Linked DNA regions of Homo sapiens. Changing the gene in region 2 together with the main gene of any one other region gives a genetic interaction. Each region holds a gene or a part of one and is shown on either strand. Other genes may lie near its edges.

Region 1 (3,500 bases), on a different chromosome or scaffold from region 2:
CCGCCAGCGCCAGGGAAGAGTGGGATAACACGGCACACAGCACAGGTGCCACCAGCGCCAGGGAAGAGCGGGATAACACGGCACATAGCACAGGTGCCACCAGTGCTGCGCGCTCCTGCTGAGCTAAGCGCCACCTTCGTGAATGGTGAACGTCTGTGTGAGTTAAGGGAAAGACACTTCCTCAGGTTCTTCAAAAGCTGAACATTACAACATTCGTCTTCAGGCGTGGACTTGTCTGGTGACTCCGTGCTTTGGAAAGACGGCATGCCTTGCCCTTTGCCCCCGCTGCTCTTGGGCGTATACTGCGGCCCCTGGGCTGTTTCAGGGCCCTCAGGATTGATTTCTGGGCTACGAGACTTGGGCACACCCTGAGTAACATGATGCAGCGACACATTCCATGAGCTGATATCCTGTGGCTCTGGGACCGAAATCACATCTTTCTCAAGTAACTGTCAGTAAGTACCAGCACCAAAGCCTAAAATGAGACAGCTCCTCCGTGGCTGAGCTTATGAGTTTCAGTGGACAGACACCGAGGCACACACGACACAGACCTCCTCTGGCCTCGTCACCGGTCTAATGGACATGACCCAAGTTTTACGCCCCTCATGCCTAAGCCGGCCCTAACCTCTTACAGCAAACTCCCTGGCCCCTGGAACTGAGAGGGAAAGGTAGAGCTGGCTTGTCTCTGCCCTTGCAAAAAATGCACCCCTTATCTAAGAAAGGGTGATTCACAGACAGACAGAACTGCTAAACACATGCCCAGGGCATCGGGAATCAGAAGGAGCCAGGCTAACAGCAGGCATCGCTACATCGCCTTTCCCAGCAGGCAGGCGGGCGGCGGACGCCCCACAAGCTAAGCTCCTCCACTGTCCCTACTCACTTTGTGGTCTGTGGTAACCATGCAGCGGCCAGTTCTCTGTTTGTCCTTATGCTTCCTGTGGGGCTCTGCCATCCCCAGCATGTCACTCTCCCCTCCGAGTGCTGGGGCTGAAGGTAAAGAGAGAACTTCCAGTTCAAATTCGATCACGTGGTACGCAGGCGCAACAGGCAGACTGATGCTCGTGACCTTGTCGGAGGACTGAATCCGGAGCGCGGCCTCAGAAGACTGTTCTACGAAGGACAGAAAAAGTCACTTCAAAGCTGTTCCCTCGGTTTCACTTGTCCTTTTCCTTACAGCAGGTGATGGCCCAGCAGTGAGGCCACTGCTCAACCTCTCCCGCTCCTGCGCACCTGGCAGGCAAACCCAAGAACAAGGCCCCTAGGACAGAGCAGCCCTGTGTGAAAGCCGGCAGGCAGGCGCCCAGACCCATCATTGATCTCAATCTGAAGAGAGGAAAAGGGCATTTCCCACGGGGCCCACCCAAGTCCTGTGTAGGTCCCTGCATGACTTTCTCCCGTTCCAGCTCATCCGCAGATCCACCCCCACCCCAGGGGAGCAGGGTCCTCCCCTTCCCCTTCCTCGTGGCTGGGAGGATGGGAGTGCTCAGGGCTCTCAACAGCACCTGCAAGGGCTGCTCTGCTTTTGCTTCTCGGGAGCAGGGCCAGCCCAAGGGGGACAGGGTCTGGCAGGCATCACCATGGAACGTGACCCCAGCCGTGACCCCCATCTCCTAATCCTCAGCCAGACAAGCACTGCTCGGCCACTCAGCGTGTGAACCACTCTCAGTTTATCACCTCAGATGGGACCCCAGCACAGGCATCAGGCCGCAGGGCTCCTATGGAACACGGACTCCAGACACTGTTGAGGGGCGCTCAGCAGGATGGCAGCAAGGCCAGGCTCACCCTCACACCCACACAGTGCAGGGCAAGGTGGGCATCCTCCTTGGGCCTGGGTGGGCGGCACCTCACCTCTCGTGTTGGAGTAGACCACAGCCCTGCTCTCCGCCTGGCACAGGATGAGCATGGCTTCGGCATTGCTAAGCTGCAGGCTGTCTCCATTCTTTATCGTATAATGGCCGGTAGTGACAGTGAACTTGACTCTCTGAGGAATGCCTGCCAGAAGGCTATCTAAAGGAAAAGAGATCGTGGCTCAGCACCGCTGCCAACCGGAAGACAGCATCTCAGGGCCCGCAATGGGGTGAAAGGGGCTCTATTTCTTTTACTATGAAAGATTTGCTCCTTTGGGATCTCCATGAATTCCTTCTACTTCCATTCCCTTCTGCCCTAACTTTTCATCTCAATGATGTGGACTACAGGGTTGAAGGAGAACCTTGCTGGGGAAAAAAGAATCCTGTGAGTCAAGGAGTCTTATACCCATCTTGGTTCAGCAAGTCAGGGATTATGATCATGACTACGTCTCTGAGGGTCACAAAATTTGCCTGCCCATTAGTAGTAGAAGAGAATCACATAATGAGGCTTAAGAAGAGACTGTAAAGAAAACTTGACTGTGCTGGTGCTGCTCAAATATTCAAAACCTTCTCTGGATTTTTCAGCTTCAGGCCACGGGCTTTTGGGTTAAGAACAGTCAGCAGTCAGGTGGCTCCCCCTCACTCCAAGACAGCAATGAGAGGCAGGAGTGAGCTGAGGCCTCTGAGAATCCTGCTGCAGGGAAGACAGAAGGCAGGCAAGATACCAGGACCGGGGGGAGAGTGGACAGAGACAGGGGACACTAGGCAGGAAGCAGGAGCCAGGCCATGAGCCTGGCACTGCAGCCGCTGGGCCATGGGGAGGGCAGGGCCTGCTGGCTGGTGCTTCGGCTCCCCTGCGGGAATCGAGTTCAGCTTCTCTACACAATGTTCCAATGGAAGAATCACTGGAGAGACTGACTGCTGTGTCCCACATCTGACAGCCTTTGCTGGTGGCCACACAAGAGGCACAAATGCAGAAAAATAGGGGGAATGGGGGAATAACAGAAAAATGCCCTTTGTGATTTTTTTCCACGTAGAAGAAACAGGCAAATAAATAAATCGTTGCTAGCCCGAACAAAGGAGACATTCACTCACTCTTGTTCAGCTGCCACATGTTCTTCAATCATTTGTTTATAGCAACTCCTTCCAATTTTAGAACTTATCAGAAAGGACAATAGCTTTGAATTTCTCAAATGCCATGCCAGACGGACAAGTTTAATCAACCCTTTCAAAGGAAAACTTTTTTTTTTTTTAAGAGATGGAGTTTTGTTCTGTCACCCACGCTGGAGAACAGTGGCGCAATCACAGCTCCCTGAGGCCTCAAACTCCTGGGCTCAGGAGGCTGAGGCAGGAGCCTCAGCTGGGGCTCCAGCCTGTAGCTAGGACTAGAGGCCGTGGCGCACGACTACACCCAGCTAATTTACTTCATTTTTTTATTTTGCAGAGATGGGGTTTTGTCATCCTGCCCCGACTGGCTTACCCATGCTGGTCTCAAAGCCTTGGCCTCCCAAAGTGCTGGGATCTGAGTATAGATCCTAACTAAATCTAGTGTTTAGCATTTGAAACGTACTTCTAAGCAGGAAATTATATACATATTTATGAAACCCTGTGGTAGACATTAGCTGCTTCTTGGCCTAATGTGACACTGTAAAA
Region 2 (2,797 bases):
CTTAGTTACACTGCCACATTTCAAGTGCTCAATCGCTAAATGTGACTAGCGACTGCCATACCAGACAGTGACGTCCTAGGCAAGGATGAATCCATACTTTTCTTCCTTTGAATAAAAGGCTTTGGTTTTCTAATTGTATGATGCACTCATTTTTTGCTCTTGCTTGTAAAAGCTACATTTGGCAGGGATTTCACTAGCTTGAGCCATGATTTTGTTTCTAAAATTGAGCAGCTCCCATCAGTACTAAAAAAACAGTCAAGAATCAAGGATCGGGAACCTATTTCACTCACTCCATTCCTGCCGTGAATGTCTGGAAGCTATACTTAGCTATGTTTCTGTATGTATGTACACACACACTGCTATATACATCTGAACAACCACAGCAGCAGCAAACTGAAAGCAGGAGTGCTGTCTTCACTGCCTCGGGAATGCCTCAGAATCTTTCTGCTTAAAGCATAGCAAATCACTTTTGATTGTGAACACTCTTCTGTTTCATTTCCTGATCATCTTTCTCCTGCTTTCCCCACAAAGGTCTGCTATTGTATATCTGTATAATAAAATAAAATTATTTGTAAGAATTGTATTCTTTTAGCTACTAGCTATCCCTCTGGGATGTTGTTAACCTGCCAGAAATTTTACAACTAAAAACAGTTACGATACCTTTTATTCATTCTTAGTCTTGACTTTTCTGACGTGATGTTTTAAATTCTTTCAATCAGTGATCTTAGAGATAGGGCAGTTTTTGTTTTTATCTGCCACTTTTATCCTTGCAGCATGCATTGGAGTTCACTGCAGACACTTTTTCTCAAACAGGAGATTGGGCAACCTTGAGTCCCCAAAAGGAACTTACCTGTCAGCTCAGGCTCTGGACCTGCTTAAAGCTTGAGACACAGGAGGGCCCTGAGCAAGAGAGAGAGAATAAAACTATCAGTTAAGTAGGAATGATAAACAAGGTTCCATTCCACATGTGGGAGATGGCCTGGCAGTAGCTGCTGGAACGCAGGGTTGAGAGAGAAGTACTGACAGAAGAGGATTCTTCGGGTGGAAGTGCAGAGTCAGCTGGTGATGGCTACAGGAGAGGGCAGCTCCCAGCCTGTGCCGTGGCCATCCCCAGGTGCAAGTGAAGAAAGAAAGAGGTGGGGTGAAAGGAGGAGAATCACCATATCACCATTTTTATTTTGATGCTTACACTCATTTATTCTGTTTTTGTAAAACAGTTTCAAGAATTTAAAAATCCTTCCAGTTAATAGAGCTTTTGTTATTATATTATAATTTTGTAAACCCACTTTGTTTTTCCCACTTTAAAGCCACAGGGTCGACTCATGGATGATACCTCTATTGCTGCTGCATGATGTTCAAGACCGGCCCTTGGCTGTTGTTACAGAGATGTTGGGCAGAGCTATGCAGGTGTTTCATTGTGAACTCTAGCTTTGATCATGGTAAAAAGTTAACCTTTTCTATTTTTTAATGGATGTTATACCAACTATTCAGAGGAACTCATACTTCAAAAATATTAGGAAAATCTGTCTTATAGTTTCTCTAATAAATATCTGAAATCTCAGTACGACATGAAAGAATGTCAGACCATTGTTATTGTTGAAAGTCATTTGATGAATGGTAAATTCTATGAAAAGTAAGTGATTTGCATGTATAATATCAGGAAAATTAAGCATCCCAAGTGTGACTGGACAAAGAGAGCAGATGCACCAGTGCCTGTGCCATAAAGTTCCGAATCCCCCATGTGTCTCTTTCAGAGCTGGCCAGACCGGAAATAAATCATTCTCATAAATTCAGTGTGTACTCAGAACACATACACAACAACATAGGGAGTTGTATGACTGATACGGAAAACTTCCAGAAAGTTTTAATCAAAGCAGTTTAATTAAGGTATCAAAAATATCTTTGCTTACTATCAAGAAGTGTCAAATAGGTTCAGCTTGCTGCCAAAATATGGATCATTTATGAAGCAGGTTCATATTTTAGAGGTGTTAATAAAATCCTCATCGGAAAAGATCCAAAGTGCAAGGATTTGATTATAAACATAATTTCCTAGACTGAAAGTTTTTGGAAAAGATGCAGGGTCTGAGTCAGGCCTTCTGGTTATATTGTGCAGTTTCAAAAGAACTATTTAAAACTCTTGAAAACTCATGTAAATAAAAATCATAGGGTGAAAATTGTATTTGTTAAAATACCTTAATAATTTAAAATGACCTGATTTCCTGGAAAATTTTATTATTCAAAAGGTGGAGGCATTGTAAAAAGGAAATAGTGATGTAAATAAACATGTTCTCTTTCAAGTATGCTTGTCTGTCTCTATCTTTTATTTTGAGCTTGTTTGATTTCAGCTTCATGGAACAGCTTTTACTAAGAACACTGTTGCATGAGATGCAATGGCAAGCACAGGATTGAAAATTGGGCTGTGTTCTAGAACTGGCTCTGGTAACATTATGTGAGAGTTGGACAGTGCTATCTTGGGAGGACATGAGCTCCCTGTTGTAACATGGCTTTTCAGGTAGAGGCCATGGAGCATGACTCTAGAGTCCAGCTGTCTAGGATCAAATCCCTCCTCTGCTGCTTTTGTCTGGGTGACGTTGTTCAAGTTCCTTACCCTCTGTGTATCTCAGCGTTCTTGTATATAAGATGTAAATAACACCCATCTTATAGGCTTGTTATGAAGGATGATATAGATTCATACATGAGAAGAGCTTGGAACAGTGCCAGACCCAAAGTTATGTATGAGGGTGCTCAGCCAGTGTCATCTATATTTTTATGGGAAGGCTGAAGAGGGTATTCACTT
Region 3 (3,500 bases), on a different chromosome or scaffold from region 2:
TAAATACATTAAAAATTATATTAGGCTGCTGGGTGTGGTGGCTCATGCCTGTAATCCCAGCACTTTGGGAGGCAGAGGCAGGTGGATTGCTTGAGGTCAGGAGTTCAAGACCAGCCTGACCAACATGGCGAAACCCCGTCTCTACTAAAAATATAAAAATTAGCTGGGCGTGGTAGTGGGTGCCTGTAATCCCAGCTACTTGGGAGGCTGAGGCAGGAGAATCGCTTGAACCTGGGAAGCGGAGGTTGCAGTGAGCTGAGATTGTGCCACTGCACTCCAGCCTGGGCGACAGAGCAAAACCCTGTCTCAAAAATAAATAAATAAATAATAATATTAGGCCTACCCTAATATAACCTATTGTGAATATTTTCCTTTAAATCATCTTCCAAAATATACATTTTAGTCATAACAAAATATTCCAATGTGATGGATTGTAATCTAACAATTCCCTCATTATTGAAGGGCTACAGCTTTTCTAGTTTTTCACTACTATAAATGCTACTTTTATATATCAAACTTCTATATTTAATAGCCAGTGTTTATTGAGCACTTAATTAAGGCACTTTGATAGCCACTTTATATGAATCCTCCCTTTCAATTTGCATCACTCAGTGAGATGGGAATTATTGTCACCCTCCTTTTCCGGATGAGAAAACTGAAGGTTGAAGAGGCTAAGCAACTTCCTCAAGGCTACACAGCAAATTGGTGGTAAAGCCAGAATGCAAAGCAGGTCTGCATGACCACTGAGTGAAGCTTCTAATCATTCTACCATACTTCATCTTCCATTATTTCTTTATGATGAATTCCTGGAAGCAGAACTCTTAAAAATAACACCCTATTTTTAAAAGTGTGATAAGTGCTGCCATGTTGCCCTTCAGTAAGCTTATAACAATTTGAATAATGCTCATTTTCATACTCTTACTAATACTCGATGCCAGCACTTTAAAAAGTCATTTTCAATTTCCTAAGTTAAAAAATGCTGGCTCATTTCATATATATTTTTAAGCTGATTTAGACTACTGGTATTTTTGTGATTACCTCCTGTAACAGACAAAGCATAGTAGTAAATGTTCTAGGTGGGCCCAATGGCTTATAACAACAGAAAGGGGATTTTGCAAATTTAGGACTCCTCACTGACAACAAGAGCAAGAGATGTTGCAGTGGCAAGTGGTGAATGGAAGAATGGTAAGTCTTCCTCCAAGGGCGGGTCAAGGAAGGATGATGACATCTGAACCCAGGAGTGGACCCTGGCAGCTGAGCTCACCATTAATGAGTTATAACTCACCATTAATGAGTTATCTTTACCACCAGATGGTCTCAAGTAACCAAAAATTTCACTTTGGCCCCTTGTTCCTGATTTTATGGAAATGCCACTTGTAAAGGTCCACATCATGGCAGAAAAATTTCCAAAGATCTCTCAGTCAACCTGGACTCCGCCTTCCTTTTTATCCCCAATCCTCCCCATATCTCTTTCCTCTTCCCACACACTATCAAGTCATGGATCTGAGATGACCACCAAGCACTCCATATCCCTGACAACCCACCAAACAACTTGTAATCATGCCTCCCAACTCAATGTATCTTCCTTCCCCCGGCAGCTATTTCCAACGAGCGCATCCTAGATGAAGAACGATTTTTCTGTGCTCCCATTGTATTCTGATGCTTTGTAATTGTTGGTCTACTTTCTCAACTAGATTTTCAATTTGTTGAGAGCAAACACTTTGTTTTACTGCGTATACAGGACAGTCGGTGGGTATGATAGGGTTTTATACTTTTTCATCAATAAATTGCACGGAGTTGATCAAGCAAACTGGTAGCCAATTTTCTATCTCTGGAGAACAGAGAAAGGAACTAAAATCGAGTGAATCTCTCTCTATTAGATGCCCAGTAATTTACATCCATTAACTCAATTAACTCTCACAATAATCCACTGAGGCAGACAGTAGAGTCCCTATTTTATAAATGAAAACAATAAAACCTTGCTTTCCACATATAGGTAGTGGGGCCAAAATCTGAACCTAGGTTGATGTGATTCTGAGCCTTGGTTCTTTCTATTCCATTAGGCGGCCACCCCTCCTGAAACTCAAAGCCATGTAAACTGAATGGGGAAGGCTTCTCTTCCAGAATTATTGGCTTAAAATCCTCTGGAAGTAAAAAGTCTCCCATTTGCCCTGGCCAGGAAACAAAGAGAGAAATGGGAGCATGGGAAGAGGGATGTAGGAAGAAGAGGGTGGTAAGTTAAAATTACATAACACTTCCCCACTTATCTGAAAGCATCACCTGGGGCACTTCAATCTTCAACTTGACCTCTTTTAACTGTCTCAAGCCTGAGAAGCTTTTTAGATGAGCACCCTAGATTCTTATGGCACTGTGACGCCATCAGAAAAGAAAAAACTGAGACACCGTAGTATATAAGGAGCAAAAGGGACATGTGGCTCTCATTCTGATGAATAATAAGTGGTACAACTGTAGCTAAGTCTAAGCCATTAAAATTCTCTGGAAATCTCCATCTCCTCATTTCTAAACTGAAAGGATTAGGCTGTGAGAGTTTCCAAACTGGCTCTGCATTCAAATAACCCTGAGTCAGTGGAAAATACTGATCTCTAGATCCACCCTCATTCTGCTTTAGTAGGCTTGGAGTGGAACTTAGGAATCCCCAGGTAATTTATAGGCTCAGCCAATTTTAAAAACACCTGGGTGAGATTGTCTATCCCTGCCCTCCTCTCCCCCTTTTCAGAGGACGAGAGTGTGAAAAGACAGCCAGCTGACTTAGTATATTGTCACATAACCAAACACTACCAAGAAATAGCAATTCCAGTTCTATAAGGCTTAATAATCCCTTCCTGTTTCAGGATAAAGTGAGTTATGCTCAATCTTCCTCAGTTGGTTAAACCTGCCTTGCTTTACCAATGCACTAGCCTTAAGACTGCCAAAAACAGCACTAGTGGGGAATGCAAGCTTTTTATTTAATTACAGGGTTCCTCCAGAGGTAGCAGCTGTTGCGATTCTCTCAAGTTGCCAGACCATCAGTTTCTCTACTCCTTCAAAGCTCTTCTGAGAATGAACTACTACCAGAAGATTTTAAGGGCAGACAGGCAGTCTGCCCAGGAGACAGTAATATTCCTACCTTGACATCTAGCTTGGCCAAGTGCTGTAAAACCCAGATGCGATGGGACCAAGCATTATAGTTGCTTGGGTATCTCCCTGCTGCTTCACCACAGACCTCCATCTCTTCTTGTATGAGTCGCTGTGCCCTTTCTGTGGGAATTGTTCCCAAGTTTCCTTTGGTCACAAAGGAAGGCAAGGAGGTTTCCTGAATTAGCTGTTGTAGCACCCATCGCCTGTTAAGGCAGCATGTGGGAAAGAGAACACAGAAAGAACATAAACCAGAGAGAAAAATAACCAGTTTTCATTGTTCCTAATTTAATTTCCATTCAGAGACAATGCAAAATAATACCTGTTTATAAGTCTAGTATTTTGGAGATGGGGAGGGGTTGTTT
Region 4 (3,500 bases), about 100 Mb from region 2:
CATTATAGTATCACACAGAGTAGTTCCCTTGTCCTAAAATCCCCTATGCCTATAATTCCTCCTTTCCTTTCAATAGAGCCTATATAGTGAATTTTTGTGAATTGTTCTTGGGACCTAGAAAGAAGGGGTGCTCTCTGTTTTCAGGGCCTAGAGCTCAATATATATTAACTAAGTCCTCTTTATTGATTTGTTTAGATCTCCTATATCCTTACTTTTTTGTCCACTTGATCTGCCTTGGACCGAAACAGTGAATTAAGTCTCTTACTGCTAATATATTTATGTCAATTTCTCATGGTATCTCCTGAAACTTTTGCTTTATGAAAATTACTTTGTTATTTAATAGTTATTTGGTGCATATCCATAATGTTCAAATTCACTGTCAAATATACACTTTAGCTTTATGAATATCCTTCTTTGTCTCAAATAATGACTTTTGGTCTGAATTCCACCTCTTGTTTGCCTTTACATGTATACTTTTGCCCTTCAGAACTACTTTGTCATCATTACAAACAAAATAACAAACAAAAAACCAACAGATTTTACTGGTGATCCAATTTGAAAATCTTTTCACAGTAGGTTAGCTAAGGACATTTAAAATGTATTGACATGACAGACATGGTTGGTCTTAGTTTTACCATATTTTACTTTGGTTTAATATCTTTGGGTAATAATTTTTAAAAAGTCTTTCATTGTCTGTTTTCTTTTTTGTGCAATTACCATTTTTCTGATAATTAGGATGATGTATATTTTCATTATAATATGTGTTTCTGATTCTATCTTTTTAACTGTAATTTTAAATATTTTACTTAATACCATTAATCCTCTATTTCTTTACACAGAAACTATTAACTCCCTACTATGAGCACTTATGAAATTAGCTTGTATAATCTTACTGCCCATCCACACAACATGGTTATAGTCAATAGTATTATCTTTCTCAGTGTTTACCTTTGAACTCCTTATACTTCTACTAACTGATCTGTCAGCTTTAAATGATGTCCTTTGACTCATAGCCATTACAGATGTGGCAATTCACAAACTTATTCTACCTCCAATTTCTTTCCTCTTCTCTTTTTATTAGTTGTATAATCAATCCCTTACATTATTGGACATTTAACATTTACATTTTATTCTTTCTTCCTCATTCTCACTTTTGTTCCAGTCTCAGTCCTGCAGTTAAAATGCATACTCAATGCTCTCCAAGAGTATTTTTGCCAGTTTCCTTACTCAGCTCCAGAGTTTATCCTCTAACATTTTCCTTAAGATTGCCTTAAACATATGCTCCGAGTCTTGTACCTGCAAATTGTTTATATTTGAAGGAGATTTTATAGAGGAAAAAATTAAGACACAGAAAGTTAGACAATCTGTACATGCTAGCAAGGGGGCAAGGGGCAGAGCCAAGATTGGAACTTGCAAGTTTAGCTCCAGAGTTCTTTCTACTTCCAACAAGTTCAGGTATTCAATTTTTATATCATAGAGGAAATATTAACATTTAGAAGAAACAATAACAAAGCAACCAGCATGCATGATGAAACTGAAGAAATGCATTTTAGAAATTGTGTTAGGTTAGAGCAAAGTGAGATTAGGAGGCAGGATGTATCACATGGTTAAAAGCATGGTCTCTGGAGTTAATCCTCAATTTAACTACTGGCTCTGTTACTTATTAGCTATGATACTTTGGACACATTATTTAACCTCCCTGAGCCCCAGTTTCTACATTCGTAAAATAGGGAAAAGAGTGACAACCTCATGGGATGCTGTGAGGTTCCAATGAGATCATACGTTTTATAATAGGGAGCCAAAAAAAGTGCTCAGCACATGGGTTAGTGCTTTTGATAGGTTTGCTATTTTTAAAGATTACCACTATCATGAGATTAAACAAGAAAACTTCAGGGTTATTTGGGGGGAAAAATTCCAACTTTCTAAGATATAAAAAAGGCATTTATTTTCTTACATGAATCTCCTCTTCTTCCTCTTTGCCAACTGTCTCACCTGATCTTTAATAATAAATTCAAGTTCCAGCTCCTCCATGAAAACTGCCCTGATGATTCAATCCACATTGATCTAAATACTCCCCGACAAGTTTGTACTTGTCAATACTATGATTTAAGCATTTTATAATAACGTCATTATATTTTAATAAACATTTTGTAACATTCTACTAGCACATATTGTTTACATATTTTCCAATTACCTTTTTTTAACCAGTTGCCTTATGTGCTATCTTATCTCACCAACTAGACAAATAACGTCTTTTTTCAAAACTTTTACCCCTTTTTAGACTCAAAATTGCTTAGCACAGAAGGAGATATACAGAAAGTTTTGATTTATTTTAAATGTTTATATTTAGGGGAAAACAAGTAGACTAATGAGCTAGAGTGACCAGTTTCAGATAAAACATTTACTTTTAAATTCTTAACTCTTTAAAGGATCATTTACTTTTTAAAAAAGGAGAAAGTATGGTTAAGGGGGAAAAGGTTATAAGATGCCTTCAGAATAATTTCTAAAAGTGAAATCAAAATAGCTGTATTATTAAAAAAATGGAATACAATTATAGTATTTCTAAGACCTAAGTACAAGGACTACCTAATTCATTAATGCTTGGTTAATGTGTAACATTGACTGAAAAAGAAAGAGACACATTTATAAGAACATAAAATAGTTAAATGTGAATTCAAAGCATTTACTAAAGTTTATTTCTTAGCCTTAGTACTCAATGTTCTAAGAAAACATTGAGAAAAGAAAAGAAAAGAAAAGAAAAAAGAAAGGAAAAGAAAATTGTGTGGGCTTGTTCATACATGCCATCTCCAAGACAGTATCTATAGCACGGCAATTAAGAGCATGGGGTCTAGGGCAGACACCCTCAGTTTAAATTCCAGCTTCACTATGTCCACCTCTGACTTTAATCATGTCGCTTTATCCATGTATGTCCTGGCTCCTCTCTCATTAAAATAAGGAGAACAGTATCTATACTACAGGGTTGTTGTGAGAAATAAGTGGTATTACTCAGAGTGGTTAGAACAGTGCCTGGCATATATAAACAAATGCTCATAAATGACAGTTATTACAAACATCACTACTTAAAACGTCTACCACCACGAAACTTCAAAAATACATCTATTAGGCCGGGCGCGGTGGCTCACGCCTGTAATCCCAGCACTTTGGGAGGTCGAGGCGGGCGGATCACGAGGTCAGGAGATCGAGACCACGGTGAAACCCCGTCTCTACTAAAAATACAAAAAATTAGCCGGGCGCAGTGGCGGGCGCCTGTAGTCCCAGCTACTCGGGAGGCTGAGGCAGGAGAATGGCGTGAACCCGGGAGGCAGAGCTTGCAGTAAGCTGAGATCATGCGACTGCACTCCAGCCTGGGTGACAGAGCAAGACTCTGTCTCAAAACAAACAAACAAACAAACAAACAACAACAAAAAAAACATCTATTAGCCAGGCGCAGTGGCTCATGCCTGTAATCCCAGCACTTTGGGAGGCCGAGGTGGGCAGAT
Region 5 (3,500 bases), on a different chromosome or scaffold from region 2:
GCTACAGCTTCACCCCTAGTATGCTTGTCTAGGGGAGTGTAGGCCCCTTGTTGGGAATCTGTGTTTAGAATACTGCTGTAGCTACAGTTGTATGCTGGTAGTGTCCTTTTCACTGCCTAAACTGTGGTATTGGGCCAGTGAAGGTCTGAGTTTATTGATCCTTGCTTTGCATTCCTGGCTCAGGGTGGAGGAGAAAGTTATTTCCCAATCACTTAGTTTCTGTCCTTTACCCTCAGGTATGTCAAGAGCCCCACCTTCCTCGGGGGCACCTCCAGCCTCAACAGCACAGGCTCCTTGTGGCCAGGCTGCATATGGCCAGTTTGGCCAAGGAGATGTACAGAATGGGCCAAGCTCCACTGTTCAGATGCAAAGGTAGGTACTTGGTCAATCTAAAATTGGTCTGATGAGGCTGAGTGCAGTGGCTCATGCCTGTAATCCCAGCACTTTGGGAGGCTGAGGTGGGTGGATCACCTGAGGTCAGGAGTTTGAGACCAGCCTGGCCAACATGGCAAAACCCCATCTCTTTTCTCAAATAAAAAATTAGCCAGGTGTGGTGGTGTGCACTTGAAATCCCAGACTTGGGAGGCTGAGGCAGAAGAATCATGAGGCAGAGGTTGCCGTGAGCCGAGATCGTGCCATTGCACTCCAGCCTGGGCGATAGAGTGAGACTCCGTCTCATAAATAAATAAATAAATAAATAAATAAAATTGATCTGATGAAAGTAGAAAGGTTAGGAATGTATGGGGGTTTGTGTTTTGTTTTGTTTTTTTTCTCTCCTTTGCCTTTCTTGTAGATCACTTTTTCTCTTCCCTCTACCCTTTTGTACTTTGTCTTCTTTTTTCCAGGTTACAGGTACTGCTGACGTCCAGCCCTGTGGATTATTGACCCATCTTAGTACCTGGGTTCCTTTGCATATTCTTCATTTTCTGTGAACTTGAGTTTCTTGCTTTACTAGACATACATCTTCAATAATGGTTGCAGTCCTGTTGAGACTACCCTAAGGGAGAAATGGGAAGAGGAAACTTCAGGATTATTTGCATCTCTTTTGACTTGCCCCTTTCCTCTAGAACAGGCACTTAGTAGGACTGATTGGTTAAGTTTGGGCATGGCCAGTTATGAACTGAAAGATACTAAAAGGGAAACCACATAAATGGTGAAAACTTCAGTGGTACAGTGACCCAATAAACCCATCTTAGCATGAAAGTCCATTAAAGGAGGGCAGTCATCTCTATTAGAGTGCTTTTTAAAATTTTTTAATTTTTTTTTTTGAGACAGGGTCTCACTCCGTGGCCCAAGCTAGAGTGCAGTGGCAGGATCACAACTCCCTGGAGCCTGGATGTCTCAGGCTCAGGTGACCCTCCCACCTCAGTTTCCCAGGTAGCTGGGACTACAGGCATGCGCCACCACACCCAGCTAATTTTTTGTATTTTTAGTAGAGATGGGGTTTCGCTGTGTTGCCCAGGCTGATCTCAAAACTCCTGAGCTCAAGCAATCTGCCCACCTTGGCCTCCCAAAGTGCTAGGATTACAGGAGTGAGCCACTGCACCTGGTCAGGAGTGTTGTTTGTGTTTGGTAAATAAAGAGTAAAATATAACTGTGGGAAAGGGGTATGATAATAGAAAAGTCACTTTCTGACACTTTAACTGGGTGTCCAGAACACACATTTTAAGCATTGAATGTAAGCCTGGGTAAGTCAAACAAGTGGGGTACATAGAAGATAACAAGTACACAAATGTACATAAAGTTATAAAACAGGGTGAGGATATAGTGAGGGGGTAGGGAGCTGTTTTAAATACATTGGTCCGTGCTGGGTGCAGTGGCTGACTCCTTTAATACCAGCACTTGGGGAGGCTGAGGTGGGAGGATTGCTTGAGCTCACAAGTTGAAGGCTGCAGTGAGCCATGATTGTACTGCTGCACTCCAGTCTAGGTGACAAAGCAAGACCCTGTCACAAAAAAACAAAACAAAACAAAAAACCCATACGAAACAAGCATATGCCTTAGTAAATTATTATATAGCAAACTCCTTTGTAACTACAACTACGACCCAGATGAAGAAATAGAACTTTGCCACTCACCCCAAAAGCCTTTTCCATGTGCCCCAATTCAAACATTATTCTCTCCCTCCCCTCATAAATAACAACTATCCTGCATTATCCTGACTCTTACAGTAATTACTTTCTTTTTCTTTTTTTTTGAGACAGAGTCCTGCCCTGTTGCCCATGCTAGAATGCAGTGGTGTGATCTCGGTTCACTACACTCTCCAGCTCCTGGGTTCAGGCGATTCTCCAGCCTCAGCCTCCCGAGTAGCTGGGATTGCAGGCGCCTGCCATCAGGCATGGCTAATTTTTTTATATTTTTAGTAGAGACAGGGTTTCGCCATGTTGGACAGGCTGGTCTCGAACTCCTGACCTCAAGTGATCCACCCGCCTCAGCCTTCCAAAGTGCTGGGATTACAGGTGTGAGCCACCACGCCCAGCTGACTTTCTTGTGGTTTTTTAAAAATAGTTTACACTTGGCTGGGTGAGGTGGCTCATGCCTATAATCCCAGCACTTTGGGAGGCCAAGGTGAGAAGATTGCTTCAGCCCAGATTTTTGAGACCAGCCTGTGCAATATAGGGAGACCCCAATCTCTACAAAAAATAAAATGTTAGCTGGGCATGGTGGCAAGCTTGTTGTCCTAGCTACTTTGGGAGGCTGAAGTGGAGGTATCGTTTGGGCCCAAAAGGTCGAGGCTACACTGAGTGTGATCTCGCCACTGCACTCCAGAGCTTGAGAAACAGCGAGACTGTGTCTCACAAAGAAAAAGTTTACACTCAAATGTACAACCCCACGTACCACAATTTAGTTTTACCCACAGGAAAAACACTTGGTGTGTCTTAAGTCTATAAGCTCCACCTCTGTCTTCTTTTTCTTAGTATTTATCTGTTGAAGAAAACAGTTAACCCAAAGAATTTCCCACAGTTTGGACTCTTTACATAACATTTACATCACACTTGTCCAACTTGTGGCCCACAGTCTGCGTGCCCCAGGACGGCTTTGAATGTGGTCCAACACAAATTCATAAACTTCCTTAAAACATTATGAGGTTTTTTTTTTTAAGTTCATTACCTGTCATTAGTGTAGTGTTAGTGTATTTTATGTGTGGCCCAAGACACTTCTTCCAGTATAGCCCAGGGAAGCCAAAAGATTGGACACCCCTGATTTACATTGTATTAGGTATTATAAGTAATCTAGAGATGATTTAAAGTACATGGGAGGAGGCTGGGTGTGGTGGCTTATACCTGTAATTCCAGCACTTTGGGAGGCCAAGGTGGGTGGATCACCTGAGGTAAGGAGTTTGAGACCAGCCTGGCTAACATGGTGAAACCCCATCTCTACTAAAAATACAAAAATTAGCTGGGTGTGGTGGCGGGCACCTATAATCTCAGCTACTTGGGAGGCTGAGGCAGGAGAATCGCTTGAACCCAGGAGGCAGAGGTTGCAGTGAGCCAAGATTGT
Region 6 (3,500 bases), on a different chromosome or scaffold from region 2:
GCTTCAGCCTCCCGAGTAGCTGGGTTTACAGGTGTACTACATGGTGAGTTCTTGCAAGATCTGATGGTTTTTAAGGGGCCCTTCCCCTCTTCATTTAGCACTTCTCCTTCCCGCGGCCTTGTGAAGAAGGTGCCTTGCTTCCCCTTTGCTTTCCGCCACGATTGTAAGTTTCCTGAGGCCTCCCCAGCCATGCTGAACTGTGAGTCAACTAAACCTCTTTAATTGACCTTTATAAATTACCCCGGCTTCAGGGCCTTTTGTGGTTACATATGAATTTTAGGATCGTTCTATTAAGGTTTATTTGGCTTACAGTTCTGCAGGCTGTCCAAGAAGCACGAATCTGAGGATCTCAGGAAGCTTCCAATCATTGCAGAAGGGGAAGAGGAGTCAGTATTTCACAAGACGAGAGAGGGGAGGGGTGCCATGCTCTTTTAAACAACCAGTTCTCTTGTTAAATTATAGAGGGAGAACTCACTCATCAGCAAGGGGATAGCACCAATATGTGCATGACGGATCCACCCTCATGACCCAAACACCTCCCACCAGGCCCCGCCTCCAACACTGGGATCAAGTTTCAACACTAGATGTGGAGGGGACAAATATCCAAACCATAGCAAATGCCACTGGAATTATGATAGGGGTTGCATTAAATCTGTAGATCACTTTGGGTACTACGGATATTTTAACAATATTAATTCTTCCAATTCATGAACACAGAATACCTTACTTATATTTTCTCCAATTTTTTAAATCAATGTTTTATAGTTTTCAGCATATAGATCTTTTACCTCCTTGGTTAAATTTATGCCCAAGTATTTTATTTTATTTTATTTTCTGATGCTATTATTATTTTTTTAAAAATTATACTTTAAGTTCTAGGGTACATGTGCGCAACGTGTAGGTTTGTTACATATGTATACATGTGCCATGTTGGTGTGCTGCACCCATTAACTCCTCATTTACATTAGGTATATCTCCTAATGCTTTCCCTCCCCCTCTGATGCTATTATGAATGAAATTGTTTTCATAGTTTCTTTTTCAAATAGTTCATTGTTAGTGTATAAAAATGCAACTGATATTTGTATGCTGATTTTGTATCCTGCAACTTAACTGCATTTGTTTATTAGTTCTAATTTTTTTGTGTGTGGAATCCTTAGGTATTTCTATGCATAAGATCATCTCACCTGAAAACAGAGACAACTTTACTTCTTCCTTTCCAATGTGAATGCCTTCTATCTTTTTTGTCTGCCTGACTGTTCTGGCTAGGGCCCCCTATATTTTATTTAATGTAGAGTAAAGTGACAGAAAAAGCCACAGTTAATCATACCTCTATAAAGAATCTGATACATGGCATTCTTACAGAACTGATAAAAATGAGTGGGATAATCTACATTGAGCCATGGCTGACAATAGCAGTTTTGACAATACATCACATTTATATTTTCATCTTTGACCCAATAGTCTACCTTCCTAAACATACCAATTCTAACAGTCCAAAGAATTTTGAGATGTTTTCAAATTTTGGCTGCACAGTAAAGTGCTGCATTACCCAACAATCTTTGAAGTTCTTAAAACTTGTTTCTATAGACAGTTTTTTTTTACGTGAAAGCTGATAATCATCTAATTCCAGTGATTTTAGAGCTATAATTACAGAAGAGTAAGAGGTTCCTTTTTACATTAATTAGTATTTAATAATGCTTATTAAAGCATCAGAGCACTTAGTTAACATGATATACTGAGTTCTGAAAACAATGTATTATAATTATAAGGTCCACAGAAGAACGAAACCATAGGCTGTAGTAACATGTATACAAACGTCTTTCTTGAAGTACGAAGAAAAGTTGTTTTGGTCTACAATAAAGAAAGAGGGGGGTCAGGCGCGGTGGCTCATGCCTGTAATCCCAGCACTTTGGGCGGCCAAGGCAGGTGGATCACCTAAGGTCAGTTGTTCAAGACCAGCCTGGCCAACATGGTGAAACCCCGTCTCTGCTAAAATACAAAAATTAGCTATGCCTAGTGGCAGGTGCCTGTAATCCCAACTACTAGGGAGGCTGAGGCAGGAGAATCACTTCAACCCAGGAGGCGGTGGTTGCAGTGAGCCGAGATGGTGTCACTGCACTCCAGCCTGGGTGACAAGAGCAAAACTCTGTCTCAAAAAAAAAAAAAAGGGTAAGGGAAGAGGGTAAGAAAAGAGAGAGTAAAGCAGCAAAAACAAAATTACAATGATATGTCTAAACTCATCAGTATGAAGAAAGATGTAAAAAATCTGGAGACAGCTTAGCTGAAAGGTAATATCATGGTTAAGTTACTTCACAGATTTTTTTGAGTTACTCTTCCCAGCACTTTGGGAGGTTGAGGCAGGTGGATCACGAGGTCAGGAGTTCAAGACCAGCCTGGCCAAGATGGTGAAACCCATCTCTATTAAAAATACAAAAATTAGCTGGGCATGATGGCAGGCACCTATAATCCCAGTTACTTGGGAGGCTGAGGCAGAGAACTGCTTGAACCCGGGAGGTGGAGGGTGCAATGAGCTGAGATGGTGCCACTGCACTCCAGCCTGGGCGACAGAGTGAGACTCCGTCTCAAAAAAAAAAAAACAAACAAAAAAACTTCTTTAACAGAGGTATTAACATTTTACATTTTAAAAGGAATGTTGGAGACATCTGATGCTGGCCATGTTACAGTAAGAGCATTTTGACGTCAATCACCCACTGATTACAACAAAAACTGGACAAAACACACCAAAAAACAACTACTTCAGGACTACAAAAAGTAAACAACAGCAAGTGAAGGCAAGGCAGCAAAAACTTCTAGAAAAACCCTGTCTTTCCGGCCAAAGGACCAGGAAAAGAGGTTGCTAAGAGGTAGTGAAGTACAGGAAAGTCTCCCCTTTTTTTCTCTACCTCCTCTTTTTTCTTTCCTGGTCCTGCCTTTAAGGCAGCCCCAGTTGCAGAACTGCATGGTGGCAACAAAGGCAGTTAAAACCCCATCTTTCTGGCCAGAGCAAATAGAAAAAGGGATCCCAGGCCGGGCGCGGTGGCTCACGCTTGTAATCCCAGCACTTTGGGAGGCCGAGGCAGGTGGATCATGAGGTCAGAAGATCAAGACCATCCTGGCTAACATGGTGAAACCCCGTCTCTACTAAAAATACAAAAAATTAGCCGGGTGTGGTGGCAGGCACCTGTAGTCCCAGCTACTCGGGAGGCTGAGGCAGGAGAATGGCATGAACCCGGGAGGCGGAGCTAGCAAGGGATCCCAGTGGTCTGAAGTGTATGGGGGAAACCTGGTTATGCTGTTCTGCCTTTTCTGCTGTTACTTTCTTTTGATAGAAGCCCAAGTCACATGGAACTATGTGGTGGCAACACATGTAGTGTTGCATGCAGCCACAGCTCTATAGAGAAACCTTGTCTTTCTTGACAGAGGACCAGGAAAATGGGGTCTGTTTGCAAAACAATGTGGAAGGAACACTGGAGAGGAAAGAGCTGAGAGAGGGGTTCTTT

The links.
Region 1: changes in TRAPPC11 (region 2) and TRAPPC10 together harm fitness more than expected from each alone (negative genetic interaction), as found in Homo sapiens cells (one large-scale study listed by BioGRID).
Region 3: changes in TRAPPC11 (region 2) and PTAR1 are lethal when combined (synthetic lethality), as found in Homo sapiens cells (one study listed by BioGRID).
Region 4: changes in TRAPPC11 (region 2) and SEC31A together harm fitness less than expected from each alone (positive genetic interaction), as found in Homo sapiens cells (one large-scale study listed by BioGRID).
Region 5: changes in TRAPPC11 (region 2) and SEC24C together harm fitness less than expected from each alone (positive genetic interaction), as found in Homo sapiens cells (one large-scale study listed by BioGRID).
Region 6: changes in TRAPPC11 (region 2) and SLC39A9 together harm fitness more than expected from each alone (negative genetic interaction), as found in Homo sapiens cells (one large-scale study listed by BioGRID).

Annotation. Positions count from the first base shown.
Region 1 is NC_000021.9:44,085,309-44,088,808, reverse strand, and holds part of TRAPPC10 (trafficking protein particle complex subunit 10), read right to left. Parts: intron 2,008-3,500; coding exon 1,849-2,007; intron 1,111-1,848; coding exon 881-1,110; intron 1-880. UniProt on the Homo sapiens protein: Specific subunit of the TRAPP (transport protein particle) II complex, a highly conserved vesicle tethering complex that functions in late Golgi trafficking as a membrane tether.
Region 2 is NC_000004.12:183,711,293-183,714,089, forward strand, and holds the end of TRAPPC11 (trafficking protein particle complex subunit 11), read left to right. Parts: intron 1-1,307; coding exon 1,308-1,352; 3' UTR 1,353-2,297; downstream 2,298-2,797. UniProt on the Homo sapiens protein: Involved in endoplasmic reticulum to Golgi apparatus trafficking at a very early stage.
Region 3 is NC_000009.12:69,729,012-69,732,511, forward strand, and holds part of PTAR1 (protein prenyltransferase alpha subunit repeat-containing protein 1), read right to left. Parts: intron 3,342-3,500; coding exon 3,128-3,341; intron 1-3,127.
Region 4 is NC_000004.12:82,884,654-82,888,153, forward strand, and holds part of SEC31A (protein transport protein Sec31A), read right to left. Parts: intron 1-3,500. UniProt on the Homo sapiens protein: Component of the coat protein complex II (COPII) which promotes the formation of transport vesicles from the endoplasmic reticulum (ER).
Region 5 is NC_000010.11:73,750,872-73,754,371, forward strand, and holds part of SEC24C (protein transport protein Sec24C), read left to right. Parts: intron 1-236; coding exon 237-372; intron 373-845; coding exon of another isoform or gene 846-852; intron 853-3,500. UniProt on the Homo sapiens protein: Component of the coat protein complex II (COPII) which promotes the formation of transport vesicles from the endoplasmic reticulum (ER).
Region 6 is NC_000014.9:69,436,692-69,440,191, reverse strand, and holds part of SLC39A9 (zinc transporter ZIP9), read right to left. Parts: intron 1-3,500. UniProt on the Homo sapiens protein: Transports zinc ions across cell and organelle membranes into the cytoplasm and regulates intracellular zinc homeostasis. Participates in the zinc ions efflux out of the secretory compartments.